Linked DNA regions of Homo sapiens. The protein of the gene in region 1 purifies or fractionates together with the protein of each later gene. This does not show direct contact. Each region holds a gene or a part of one and is shown in the gene's direction. Other genes may lie near its edges.

Region 1 (3,500 bases):
CTCAGATCAGCAAAGAGGAGCTCTGAGGAGGAAAAGGCTGCCCCAGGAAAGAGCTGGCCATCTCAGATTGCTGTAGCACATTCAAGCCAAAGGGAGTCCCCGGAGGATGTTTCGTCCAGCCCCCATAATTTTAGAGCGGGAAACAGAGGTCCAGAGAAGGAAAGTGGGTCCTGAGGCCACACAGCTAACTAATGGCAGAGTCAGTTTCCAGCCCAGGGATCCCCAGCTGCCTGCCCAGCACTCTTGCTACCCAGGCTGAACCCCCACCCCCGTGCTACCAAGGGGCCCATGCAGGAGCAGGCAGCAGCCACTGGGTAACTTGATGGCTTGGGAGAGGCGGCCTGGCCTGACACATTGGGAGGCTGGGCAGGTCCCCGCTTTGCTCCTATTGTGCTATTTGGGTGCCTCCTGCCATCCCCCTGCATTCTGCTAGACCTGAAACCACAGCCCAGCCCACGCTTGTCAGTCAAGTGCTTCCCGAGGATAAACTTTGCACACAGCACCCAGGCCACTCTTGGGGACCAGGCCACTCTCTGTTGAAGAGATCTAACTAATTTATAAATTGATTGATTGAAGTTCTTTTTGTCCCAGGTAACTTCATGTCTTAGGCCAAAGAAGGGAGTCATGATGAGTGCCAGAGATGAAACGGAGATTCTGGGGCAAAGGGTAGGGGAGGCACCTGGGAGGCCCTGTTCTTCAGGTGATCTTCTCATTAGTGTAGACTTTTGACCCCAGGCAGACATTTACATGTCCAATAGCCACCATCAGAGGTCAGTTCCCAGAAGCAGGAGGCCTGTCACTTGCCACCGGTCACCAGGCCCAAGCTAGACAAGAAGACTTTTTCTATTCCACTAGAGTGGATCTTGCTGATGATGTGTCTGGGATCCAGAAAGGTGGGGAGAAGTAGAGGTCTCAGCTCCTGGGGAGGGATGGAGCCAGCCCCGGGGGAAGAATGCAAGGCCGCCAGTGAGCAGGCATTCAGGGCTCCTGTCGAGGAGAGGGTGGTCAGGACAGGAGGAGGGGCTGCCTCATGGATGATGAGGTCCATCATCCTAGCAGAGGCTGTTGTACCAGCCACTGACGAGGGTGTGGCAGTGGTGTTACCAGAACCCTGCTATGTCAGCGTTCAAATACATGTCCCAGCAGGCCAACCACCCCTGCAGCAGTCAAGGGGTTCTGTCCGGTGTGTGCCAGAATGCTAGGGAAGAGAGGACCCTGAGAAGGATGGCAGCATGGCACAGACACGCCATGTGGCAGTTAGACAGGTCATGCCTTCTGACCCAGGGCACATGCAGAGGTCCACAGACTCTGAGGCCAGCTAGTTAGTGTTCCCAGGGGGCTGCACAGCCCAGAGCCTGTGAGTTTTGTGCATCTGGAGCTAAGGTGTTCTGCCCAAAGTGTTGGAGGTGGGCCTCAGGCAACAAATACCCTGCTTCCTCACATCCCCTTTTCTTCCTTGGAGCTTGGGCCTGGGCCCTCACCTAGTCAGGCACAGGCCTCCACTCCCCCACACTCACCTGTCCTTCCTGAAAGTCAGCCACTGGGCTCCACGCAGGGGTGTCACAGTCAGAGCCCTGCTCCAGCCTCAGACCTGGGGCAGTCACTGGAAACTCAGAAGAGAGAAGACAAGACAATGAAAGTTTCCCATTCAAGGAGGCATCCAGCTGTTAGTTCTGCCAGCAAAAATGCCAGCCAGAGAGCTAAACTGCCAGCAAAAGATATTTGGATGGAACTTTGGAGGCCATTAAGAGCAGGCACTGCAAAGCAATTGTAGCGAAAAGATATTAAATGAATCCATCACGTCTCTAAAATGAGTGTCCTTACCACAGATCTGGCTCTTGCTGTTCCCCAGCCCTTCCCAGGGTAGCCCAGGATGCACCTGGGACGGGCGCCGCAGCCTGCAATGGTCCCTGCATCTGAGGAGCTCCTCCCAGGTCACCAGGCTCCTTGGGACTGTCAGGCAGGTTTAGCCCCCAGTGTCAGCTTGTGTTTGGGGAGGATGGTTTTATATATTCTCGTTGGCACAGGAAGCCTAGTACAGATGCAGAACCTGAGGGAAAGGCAGGCAGAGAGAGAGAGGCTCGAGGTTCTGCTGAGGCCCAGGGTATCAGCAGGGCACATCTGTACAGCAGCCGGGCGGGGACCCATGGACTTTTCCAAAACACCTAACCAGGCCCTAGACAGTGCTACCCCCTGGCGCTGGGCTCTCTTTCCGGAACCCGGGGTGAACAGACCTGTTGGGTTGATTTAGTAGCAAGTGGTAGCCTTGTTTTCTGGACGAATCCTGGGATTCTACTCCATGGCACATCAAACCAAGCTCCAGTGTGCATGCCCAGGGTCGGGGAGGGGAGCTTTCTCCTTGGTCCCTTCTGCAGCTGTGAGGGCTGAGGGTTAAGAACCTTTCACCCCGTTTGGGGGTGCTGCTCCTCCATAGCCCTGTACCCCAATGCTCTAGACTTCATTATTCCACCACCTTCCCCAGGGCGGGAGGTACTCTTTCCATTACATGCATCAGGAAACTGAGGCCAGAGACATGCTGTAAGTCTTGCGAGGCAAGAGGGCTCCCGTCCGCAGGACTCCATGGCTCTGCAGCTAGACTCCGTCAACTTCCCTCCTGCCTGGGGACCCCAAGGGCCTGGCAGTGTCAGCTCCCTCGGCTCACACTTCCAGATGCTCGGAGGTTCAGAGGTTTGCACCTCCCTCTTGGTCCCATCAGCAGAGAGAGATGGGTGGTCCCATCAGGGTGAGGAGCAGGAAGAAGCAGGTGCTGGACAGCCTGGAGGAGAGGGGGAGGAAGGGATTTTCTCCCAAGAGTGCCTCTCTCCCAGGCTTCGGGCTCCAGGGTGAGTGGGCAGCGACCCCTCTAGGAGCCCCAGCTCCACAGGGCTCCTCCTGCCAAGCATCCAGCACACGTGCCCCCACCTCCCCGGCAGGTCCTGCTTGAGGGCCTGAGGCGACTGGGCCATCTGGGTCTGTGAAGGGCAGATGTGGGATGCAGGAACTTCAGGCAGGGTGCTGGCTTGTGGCCAGGAAAGCCTAGCACCTGATTCCTAGCAGGGAACTCAGTGACAGAGTGGGGGAACCTGAGGGCCCCTCTGCCCCTCACACCCAGTGCCATGTGGGGGTCCTCGCGTGTTACACAGAAATAGGAAGGGACGGTCCTCCTACCCGCACCCCAGCCCTCTTGTGTCTCACGTGACAGCCTGCCTGGGCAGTGATTTTTTTAAAACACAAATGCCTTATATTAAGGTCTGAGTTGGTCTCTCCCCACTGCCCGTTCAAACATTCCATGGCACCAGCAGCCTCTAAGCAGCAGAGTTGAGAGAACCAGCTTTGGGGTCGGATACACTTCCGTTCAAATTCCAGCTCCTCCCCTCAGTAACTGGCTTACTTAGTCTTTCTGGACTGGATAACAAAATACTATGGACTGGTGGCTTATAAACAACAGAAATTTATTTCTCACAGTTCTGGAAGCTGAGAAGCCCAAGAGCAAGGTGCTG
Region 2 (3,500 bases), on another chromosome or scaffold:
CCACAAGTAAGTGTGCTAATTAGTCAAGGAAGGCTTCTGTTAGCTAGGATACTATCTTAAATGGTACTTGTCCATGTATATCGCAAACTATAATTTCCCACATAATGTAGTGGTGAAACTTTGTATACGTTTTGGTGAGCCTTCTAATTATCAAGCAGAAGTAATGACTAGGCCTTGTGTTACCATCTTAGATTCCATCCTGACAGTTCATGCATATTATTAACTAAATGTGATTTAATCAGTTGCCTCTCATACCCCAGCTAGGCCAGGTTATCTCCTTTGTTGTGTGAAGTCCCAGAAATAACTGCATACTATGATGGCCTGTTAACCCCTCAAATCTGGGTATGGCCAGACCTGCTAGATCTGCCAAGGGAATGGGACTGTTTTATCTACATGAAGAAGATGGGAGAAGGGTATGGGAGTGTTGAATGATTGGGAGTTGTGGTTAGAATAAATTGAGCTTTTCTTTCTTTCTCAGTCCTCAGCAGCTGAGAATCCCCAGATAAACCTAGGAACAGGCTAGGTTGAAAACATACATTTATAATATAGACTAAGTTTATAGGACTTGGGCCTGACAATATGGCATGGCTGCTCAGTTGATTTCTGTGCTGTGGGGCACTGGCACTGACATAGTTTAACATACTTCGTGTATATCTCTGTTATAACAACAGAATTTCCCTTTCAGGGTGGGAAAAATAGGACCTGCTACATCCTTCCCTCCTCTCCCAATTTAATTCGTTTAATTAGATAATGACCACTTAATGATATTAAGCTAATTTTATAATAAAGTCAACAAATGTACTTTTTAAATCTCTTTTTATTACTTGACATTTAGCAACTTCTACTACACCAGCTACCAACACCACTTGTACAGCCACGGTTCCACCACAGCCACAGTACAGCTACCACGACATCAATGTCTATTCCCTTGCGGGCTTGGCACCACACATTACTCTGAATCCAACAGTAAGTAAACACTGCTCCATTCTCCCAGCTTCTAGTTTGTGATAAGGTAAATTTTGTTTGGCCACCTTTTCTTCAGCTCTTTGCCCTTCCCTCTGGATTCCTAGGTTGTAGAGTTTGTCAGAGAGGATGGAGATCTAGAACTGCTGTGTAGTTCAGTTGGGATTGTTCTTCTTCCCTTAAGAGATAGAGTGACTAGATGTTAGTTATATTGGTTCCTCATATCCAAACCCATGATACTAAAATTTAGCTAGCAATAAAATCACAATCTCCAGGAATTCCTTACACAGAGTAAAAGATGCTTAATGTATATCATAGCTTTTTATTTTCTTTATCTTGTCACTTTAGCCTTCTGCAGTAAGCCATTTCTTCCACCTGAAGGCTGGAAATGAGCTGATTGTGGGTGTGTATACAATTTCTAGGCTAAGATCTTGAAGTAGGACTTAGCACTTTGAGTTATGTTGTTGTGGCCTGGTTCCAGAAGGAGGTCTGATACAATATGGTCATGTAAGATGACCTCTGATCAGTCCTTTTTCCTATAGTTAGTATTTGCTTTGTACATTCAAGGGGACATTTTATTGTTATCTTTAGTCTTTTATTCTACTTAACAGAATATATAATACAGAATCAGGTGAGTGGAGTTTTCATTGTCCTTACTTTTTAGAAACTGAAAATGTTCACAAATACAAGAGTAACATTAATACATTGAACTTTTTATTAAAAGGAATTGAAAGGGTATCAGAGAAATCATTTTATCCTTGTCCCCCCATCCCCACTCCTATAGACATGGTACTTAGTTTTAGAGGGGTGGAGTGAGAGGCAGTGGGACACCTAGATCCAGAAATTGTGATTCATCTTTAGAATACTCTTAGTGTTGTGAACACTATTATATGCTAGTTTAATTTTTTTTTTTTTTAATTCAACAAGTTAAAGGGACCAAGTAAGTTTTGGGGCATAATTTACACCTGCAATAAAAGATTAGAAACAGCCTTTCAAATGAAGCCAAATACTTCAGTGGGCACTGTAAAATGCTCACTATTCTGATGAATTAATTTTAATAGTTTTTGTAAGAAGTCTTTTTTCTATAAACTTTATTCTTTTTACATTTTCCCAAGCTAGTGGAGAAGTTGCTTTCTTTTAAGAGCACTTGAGCCACAAATTTTAAATAAGCCAGCAGTGTGTCTTTAAGTAGTTAATGCATATTGTAATGAACAGTTTGTCCATTAAACTTGGATTTAAAAAAAAGACATATCTATTATTGTGTATCACAGGGTATACTGAATACATTTCCCTGTATGGAGCTCAGTTTCTGTTACCCGAATTTTCCATTGGTTAACTTTAAGTAGAAACTGGTAGTTTTTGGTTAATCTTGATTTACAAAATCATGAATGTGATTGCCAGTAGGAATTGGATTGTCTTATTTAAACAAGGTGTTGACTTTGTCCTCCCCAACCCCCCAGATTCCCTTGTTTCAGGCCCATCCACAGTTGAAGCAGTGTGTGCGTCAGGCAATTGAACGGGCTGTCCAGGAGCTGGTCCATCCTGTGGTGGATCGATCAATTAAGATTGCCATGACTACTTGTGAGCAAATAGTCAGGAAGGATTTTGCCCTGGATTCGGAGGAATCTCGAATGCGAATAGCAGCTCATCACATGATGCGTAACTTGACAGCTGGAATGGCTATGATTACATGCAGGGAACCTTTGCTCATGAGCATATCTACCAACTTAAAAAACAGTTTTGCCTCAGCCCTTCGTGTAAGTTGGCTATTTCCTTGGTATAGGTACAAAACGTATTACTGCTTGTCTGTAATAATTTTTTTCTTTGTCTATATATGGCACTGGGCGTTACCACTTATTCTTAATAATCACCATATTTGTTTGATGTCTTCCATCATTTTAGATTGTAATTCTGTGAGGCAAAGCATCATGTCTGTGTGTTTTTTTTTTTTTCTGTTATATTCTCAACACGATGTTTGACAGATAGTAGATACCCAAATATTTGTTGGTTTAAATAAATTAAGATTTAAAAAGGAAATGTGATATCTGACAATCTCATTTCTGTTAACCAGGAAGGATGAAAGCTGTTTGAGAAGGCCGATACAAAATGACTTAAAGTGATGTTGCATGTGCACACACTTTTCAAATAATTCACTTACTAGTTTTGAGTCTCAGATATCATGGTTAATAATTCAGGTATCATGATTAATAATTTGTTTACTGCTTTAATGATTTTTTTTGGTTGTTTTTTGCCTTTTTTTTAATGTTTCATGAGACAGGGTCTCACTCTGTAGCTTAGGCTAGAGTACAGTGGTGCAGTCTTGGCTCACTGCATCCTCCACCTCTGAGGTTCAACTGATTCTCGTGCTTCAGCCTCCCAAGTAGCTGGGATTACAGGCATGTGCTACCACGCCCCACTAATTTATGTATTTTTTTAGTAGAGAAGTGGCTTCACCATGTTGGCTAGGCTGGTCTCAAACTCCTGGCCTCAAGTGATCTACCTGCCTTGGCCTCCCAAAGTGCTGGGATTAGAGGTGT
Region 3 (3,500 bases), on another chromosome or scaffold:
GAGTGTTTTTTATTCTGTCATTCCAGCGGCTTCATATACAGATAGCTCTGATGATGAGACATCGCCCAGGGACAAGCAGCAAAAGAACTCTAAGGGAAGCAGTGACTTCTGTGTTAAGAACATCAAACAGGCAGAGTTTGGACGAAGAGAAATTGAAATTGCTGAACAAGGTAAAGAAAACAAGCACCTTTTCCTTCTTAACCTACCTGTGTCTTTTTGTCCATATTAATCCCTTTTTATGTCTGGGGTCTGGTAGCTTGTGAAATTTCTATGTGATAAGAATACTTATAACAAAAGAAATGTGAGTTCAAGAAACACTGGGGAAATCTGGCAAGTCTAGAAGGAACCCTGTATTAAAAAAAAAAAAAAAAAAGGGAGAGAGACTGGATAAGGACTGGAATATAGAGAATCAGAACCCTGGAGCATTTGCCTCCAAAAGCCCTTTATAAAGGAAAATACAGGTTTAATGTCTTGATCCCTGGAGAAACCTAATCTAACCTGATCAGGGGAAGGATCTTAACTTAAGAAAACAAGTTTTTCTGTTTGTTCTTTTATCTCTTATTCCTTCTTCTTTAATATTGCTGTATTTATTGGGCCTTTTCAGAAATGCCTGCATTGATGGCTTTGAGGAAGAGAGCTCAAGGAGAAAAGCCTTTGGCTGGAGCCAAAATCGTGGGTTGCACACACATCACTGCTCAGACTGCTGTGAGTTCTTTTCTTTTCTCCTTTTAATTACAATAGTTAATAATAGCCACGAGCTACTGAAAGCTTACAACATGCCAAGCACCGAGTTAAGAGCTTAACAAGTATTAGCTTATTAATCCTTATAATGGCCATATAAAGCAGGTATTCTTGTTTCCATTTTATAAACGAAGAAGCTGAGGCTCAGAGGGCTTAAGATATTTGTTTAAGGTTATACAGCTAGAAATCACAGAGTCAAGATTTTAACTTCAATATACAGTAGTCCCCCTGCCTTGTCTGTGGGGGATAAGTTTCAAGACCCCTAGTGGACACCTGAAACTTCAGACAGTACTGAACCCTATATATACTATGTTTTTTCCTATACATATATACCTATAATCAAGTTTAATTTATGCAATTGGCCCTGCATGTCCACCAGTTCTGCTTCCTGAGGATTTGACCAACTGCAGATCAAAAATATTCAGAAAATAAAATAATACAACAATACAAAATAACAAGAAATATAACAACTATTTACATAGCATTTACACTGTATTGGGTACTATAAATAACCTAGAGATGCTTTAAAATATACAGAAGGATGTGCACAGATTATATGCAAACACTGCATCATTTTATATAAGGGACATGAGCATCCTCAGATTTTGGTATCCATGGGAGTGCTGGAATAAATCCCCTGAGGATACTGAGAGACAGCTATAAATTCAGCACAGTAAGAAATGAACAACAGTAACTCAAAATAAAAGAGAGCAATTACAACAACAGACTGTAATAAAAGTTATGTCACATAAAGGAATTTATCACAGTACATAGCAGAAAGTCCAAAGGGAAGGCAGACTTCAGATGCAGGATCTCAGGGCTCCAGCTTCACCTCTCTGATTCTCTTGGAGCTGCCTCCTCAGTATGCTTACTTCACCCTAAAGCTGATAGCAAGATGCTTACAACTATTCTAGTCATCACAAACTGACATGAAAAGGAAGAGGGACCATTTCTTCCTCACTCAAGAGAAGTCCCTCCAGGATACTCCATCGTGTCTCATTGGGCAGAACTGGATCATGTATCTGTGCTCCACCAGTCCTACCGAGGGGCGTGGAATTACCATGATTTGCTTACACCAGTGATTCCTACCTTACTCTCATCAGTTTTAATGTCCCCTTTTTATTAAAAAACTTTTTTTTTGCAGTGTCCCTGAACTATCCTGAAATGAAATTCAGATATAACATGTCCAGGTACATATAATCTTTAAAAATAAATCAATATAAAATCTTAACTGAAATATGAAGGAGGAATAAAAAAAGTACAATACTTAAAATAATGTGTATTTCAATATGTAAATACTTGAGGACAACTATAGTAGAACAATCAGATATTTGTACTATTTCACAGTATTATTTGAAATAGTATTATTTGAAGACAGAAATAAATGTGTTATTGATTCCAGAGCATCAGAGCAGCATTGCCATGATTTTCTGAAATAGTAAACAACTTTTTGTAATCTTCTAAACAATAAGAACAACAAAAAGTATGAGTTTTCTCTTCATTTACATAGCTGTTACATTCCTGGAAAAACTATTGTTTTGTATTAAAACTACAAAACTACTTTTTGCTAATTTGTAAAGTGGAATTAGGTTCTAAACTCAGATAATTGTAGATAGGTTTTTCACCCATGGGAACTTTTATTGGGACATTTGAAAATTGTACCAGCTGCAACACAGTTTTTTGTTGAGACACTTTCAAAATGTCCAGATTCCTGGTCCTGCCCACTAAATGCCAATAGCACTCCCCTTCCAATTATTGTGGCAACCAAAAATGCCCCCACAATTTTCTAGATCTCCTCTTTTATCACCAGAGATGCAATATATATGGAGTTGCTAACCATAATGAGACCACTATCGGGAAATTGTTATATTGAGCAGTGGTCTGGAATCTTTTATGGGGATTCATAAGATCTGGGTCATCTGTGTGGCTAGATCAGCTTTCCAAAGATTGTCTCTCCCAAAGCACAACACTTATGTGGTCACATTCCTGATTAAGAACATTAGAGATTCCTCAAGGTACAGACAGCTTCTATTAGCATCTTCACTATGAAACTTTTCTGGGTTATGTGTTCTCTGAGGACAAGAGTACCCTGACTGCTCAAAATTAATATAATAAATTGAAAAGCTATCTGTTTTGGAGCTACAAACTAATGAATCAAGACAGAAACACTCTTGAATCTTTTTTGGCCTGCTCAGTCAGCGACATGAGACTTCAGTGTGGTAGCTTAAAATAGTAAGTGCTTCTCTACTGTCTCATGTTGCTGAATTACATCTAGTTTGTTTTTTACCCTTAGGCTCAGTGAGCATTACCACCTTTCATGGTTCCCTTTCTATTTTTTTCCTGAATGGATTGATCACAATTAGCTTACCAATTTTAATATTAATTTATTGTTTCCACCCCACATTTTTTTCCTTTAAAAAAATAACGACAAAGAAATTATGCTTTGTTTGCCAACCTAATACTCTTTCACTCTTGTCTTAGTTCATTTGGGCTGCTATAACAAAATACCTTAGACTGGGTAATTAATAAACAATAGATATTTATTGTTCACAGTTCTGGAGGCTAGGAAGTCCAAGATCAAGGCGCCAGCAGATTCAGTATCTGGTGAGGGCCTGTTCCTTATAGATGGCGCTTTCTATGTGCCCTCACATGGCCAAAGGGGCAAGCAAGCTTCCTCAGGCTTGTTTTATAAGTACACTAATCCCATTTGTGAGGGCAGAAATCTCATGTCTAATCACCTTCCAATCACTTCCATAATC
Region 4 (3,500 bases), on another chromosome or scaffold:
TGGGGTTTCGCCATGTTGGTCAAGCTGGTCTTGAACTCCTGACCTCAAGTGATCTGTCCACCTCCACCTCCTAAAGTGCTAGGATTACAGGTGTGAGCCACTGCGCCCCCGCTGGCGCTTTGCTTTTTCTTTACAGTCTTCCTCTCATTAGCATGTTTCCCACCCTGCTGAGAATGCTATCCCTGACTCGTCCTCTTCTATTATTATTCTCCTTTTATGCCTTCCTGGGAGCTCGGACATCAACAAAGTTCAGCATTCCAGATTCCTTCTCTACCTGCTCTACTCTGTGGGAAACTGGGTACTTACATGATGGATTTAGTTGCCAAATTATCTTTCTTTGGAAGTAACAGCCCCTTTTCTCCCTCACGGGGAATTCTAAGTTTGCAGCCTGAATTTGACAACCGGGGGAAGGTCTGAGAGTTAGAGACAAGTATCTGTTCTTTGTGGGTATTTATTCACTTACTCAACAAGTAGCTGTATGTGTCCCCTAAGCCAGGCAATCTTCAAAGCTCTGAGAGTCTAATAGTGAACAAAACAGCCCAAATCCCTACCCTCATGAAACTTGCATACTGATGGGTAGAGACAGACATTTAAATAGGTGAAACACATTGTGAGCTGGTGGGAAGCACAAAGAGAACACCAGAGCAGAAAAGAGGGACAGGAGTTTCTGTGGTATGGTGGCTGCAATTTTAAATATGGGAGTCATAGTCTTTGTAAAAGTGACTTACGGGCAAAGACTTGAAGGAGGTGGAGCCTTAAGCCTGCCAATGTTGTGAGGGAAATAGCTCCTGACCAAAAACACAGCCTGTGCCATAGACCTTTGTCCTCACCAGTTACTAACTTACTGCTTTGGGGGGTCAATGGCAATGGCCCTGTGAGAAGCTGACCGAGTGGAGGCTCCTGAGTAGAGGAACCTGACCCTGCCCTGGGCAGAAGGGTGGTGTCTTTTAAAAGATTATGCAAAGTGGGAGAAGGATGTGCATTAGTGTTGGAAGACCCACCTTGCTTTGTAGGCAAGAAAGCATAGTTGTTCTATAAGTGGGCCTTTCAAAGGGGGGCTTACTACATTTATATGATTTGTTTGGTTTTTCCTTCCCTTAGTTTGCTATAATTAAGCCTGCTCTCTCCATTGGTGGCATTTTTCTTGATTAAGTCTCCTTTCTAAAGAGACTGGTTGTGAAGAGGCAGATGGTTTGAGTAGGTGCTGCGAGTGTTTGCTGGCCAAGTGCAGGGCAAGTTGGGTATATTTGTAAGCTCGCTGTGGATGGTAGCTCCAGAGCCTAAGCACGGTGCTGCCTCCTCTGTGCATCACTGGGTCATGCAATTTACCTCTGTGCCTTAGCTTCTGTATATTGGGGTAGTAATGTCACCTAACTCATAAGGTTGTTAGAATTAAATGAGTTTAATACCTATAAAGCATTTAGAGAAGTTGTTGGTACATGGTAAGTTTTAATAAATAGGTACTTAGAAAGTACTCATTGAATAAAAAAGTGATGTTTGTGTTTATCCAGGCTGTACCTTTGGGAGCTGGCTTATAATCTTGAGACTTAAAATTAGAATTTATCCTAGTGATCAAAGATAAAAGTTTGGAACCTTGGCTGTACATTTAGCTACAGGGCTAGAAGAACTGTTTTTGTGAAAATAATTTGCTTACCATAGTGAAGGGCAGGTCTTCTTGGTTACTAAGTTAACATGGATAAGACTTTTACTTTGTCCTGTAGATTAAATACATGTAGGCCCTTTTGTGCTTAAAAAGATTTGTCTGGGCAGGGCGTGGTGGCTCATGCCTGTAATCCTAGGACTTTGGGAGGCCCAGGCAGGAGGATCACCTGAGATCAGGAGTTGGAGACCAGCCTGACTAACATGGTGAAACCCCATCTCTACTAAAAATACAAAATTAGCTGGGCATGGTGGCCCATGCCTGTAATCCCAGCTACTCCAGAGGCTGAGACAGGAGAATGGCTTGAACCTGGGAGGAGGAGGTTGCAGTGAGCCAGTGAGCCAAGATGGCGCCATTGCACTCCAGCCTGGGCAACAAGAGCAAAACTTCATCTCAGAAAGAAAAAAAAAAAAAATTTGCCTGTAATGAACTCCAAAGTGCAGGTTGCTCAAAAGTTACATGGAAACTTGACTGTCATAGCTGGATTGATTCTGGAAGCCTGTGCAGGAGAGGTCGGAGTTCCAGAGAGGCTGGGACCTTCAGCTAGGACCCCAGCCAGGCTGTTGGGCAGGTTGCAGCGATAGTGCAGCAGAGCCCAGAGCTGGCAGCCAACTACTATGGTCATGGCACCTGATTGGGGATGTGGTTTGCAAATAAGTGTCTGTCCTTGTCCATCAGGGGAGTTGGGATCAGGCAGTTTGGGATTTGGGTAGTGGGGTTTTGAGCAGAGGTCTGTGGTTCCCTGTTACATCCCCTATTTGCATGAAGAATCTTCTAGAAGGAAAGCTGGCCTAGTACAGAGGAGGGTCCTTGGAGTGGAAGCAAATGGCTCCCTTCTCCTCTAATTGACTCAGTAGAGGTTGGTAGAATAGAGGTTAAGGGGCAGGGATGCTTGTGTGGCCTTGGAAAAGTTAGCTTCACTTTCCTTTCTGTGCAGTAGGGATGATGAGAACTGTCTACTTCCTGACGTTGCCCCAAGGATTAAAAGAATGTAAGACTCTCAAAACAAGCTTCTTTGACGTCCCATCCACAGTGCAGAAGGCCCCCATTACCCCTGCACTGTGCGGTTGGCTCTCCTTTGCACCCCTTAATTGACCAAAAAGCAGCTTCTGTCACCCTGTAAATCCTTGACCTTGAAGAAGTGGGTGGCTAAAGGTGCCACAGTCAAGATTCCTCAGCCACTCGGCTACTACCCTTACCCTCAATTTTGCAGTTTATGACACTTTAGCCAGAAGCTAAGTGACTTGCCCAGGTGTTCCAAGGTAGGTGGCAGAGGCTCGATGGTGCATTTCTTTCCCTACCATGGGCTTGTCATTGGCTTGCTAGAAGGAATTGCAAACTTCTACCCTCCAGCAGGAGACACCCTGGGTTTGGTTCTCCCTGAGGCCTTTCCATTGTGAGGAAATCATTCCACCCATCAGTCTGGTTGGGAAGCACCCAAACAGATTCTCTTCAAAAAGTCATTTTTGAAGTTATAGTCCAATTTTGACTGGTTAGAGACAGGTCAGACCTACTTACTTTGCTGGCTAAGCTTTTTTTTTTTCTTTGCCCCTCACCACAAGCCTGGACGGGAGACGTACTGCTTGGTATCTGGTGCTTGAGAGGTCCCAGGAGATAAGGGAGCATTTCTGTGAAAGGTTTTGCCAGAGCCTGTCAGGAACTTAATCTTGACTGCAATGAATGACTTAACATTATAAGTGATCTTTGGGTTTAGGTGCCCAAATACCAGTCCCTCCTTAGTAAGCAGCCTTTTAGACCTAACCTTTTCTACCTAAGGTTTTGTTCAGTCTTTTTGAAAAGCAGGAAGGCCAGGTCCTTGTGAGGCTTTTCTCATTACAAG

The links. Proteins that work in one complex are often made in the same cells at the same time.
Region 2: the proteins of PAK6 (region 1) and CNOT1 purify together in Homo sapiens (affinity purification with mass spectrometry, with the first as the bait; one large-scale study listed by BioGRID). This does not show direct contact.
Region 3: the proteins of PAK6 (region 1) and AHCYL2 purify together in Homo sapiens (affinity purification with mass spectrometry, with the first as the bait; one large-scale study listed by BioGRID). This does not show direct contact.
Region 4: the proteins of PAK6 (region 1) and MTHFD1 purify together in Homo sapiens (affinity purification with mass spectrometry, with the first as the bait; one large-scale study listed by BioGRID). This does not show direct contact.

The regions. Positions count from the first base shown.
Region 1 is NC_000015.10:40,245,563-40,249,062, forward strand, and holds part of PAK6 (serine/threonine-protein kinase PAK 6), read left to right. Parts: intron 1-3,500. UniProt on the Homo sapiens protein: Serine/threonine protein kinase that plays a role in the regulation of gene transcription. The kinase activity is induced by various effectors including AR or MAP2K6/MAPKK6.
Region 2 is NC_000016.10:58,542,827-58,546,326, reverse strand, and holds part of CNOT1 (CCR4-NOT transcription complex subunit 1), read left to right. Parts: coding exon 1-6; intron 7-835; coding exon 836-966; intron 967-2,423; coding exon 2,424-2,720; coding exon of another isoform or gene 2,721-2,942; exon of another isoform or gene 2,943-3,174; intron 3,175-3,500.
Region 3 is NC_000007.14:129,389,030-129,392,529, forward strand, and holds part of AHCYL2 (adenosylhomocysteinase 3), read left to right. Parts: intron 1-26; coding exon 27-170; intron 171-604; coding exon 605-705; intron 706-3,500. UniProt on the Homo sapiens protein: May regulate the electrogenic sodium/bicarbonate cotransporter SLC4A4 activity and Mg(2+)-sensitivity. On the contrary of its homolog AHCYL1, does not regulate ITPR1 sensitivity to inositol 1,4,5-trisphosphate.
Region 4 is NC_000014.9:64,391,353-64,394,852, forward strand, and holds part of MTHFD1 (C-1-tetrahydrofolate synthase, cytoplasmic), read left to right. Parts: intron 1-3,500. UniProt on the Homo sapiens protein: Trifunctional enzyme that catalyzes the interconversion of three forms of one-carbon-substituted tetrahydrofolate: (6R)-5,10-methylene-5,6,7,8-tetrahydrofolate, 5,10-methenyltetrahydrofolate and (6S)-10-formyltetrahydrofolate.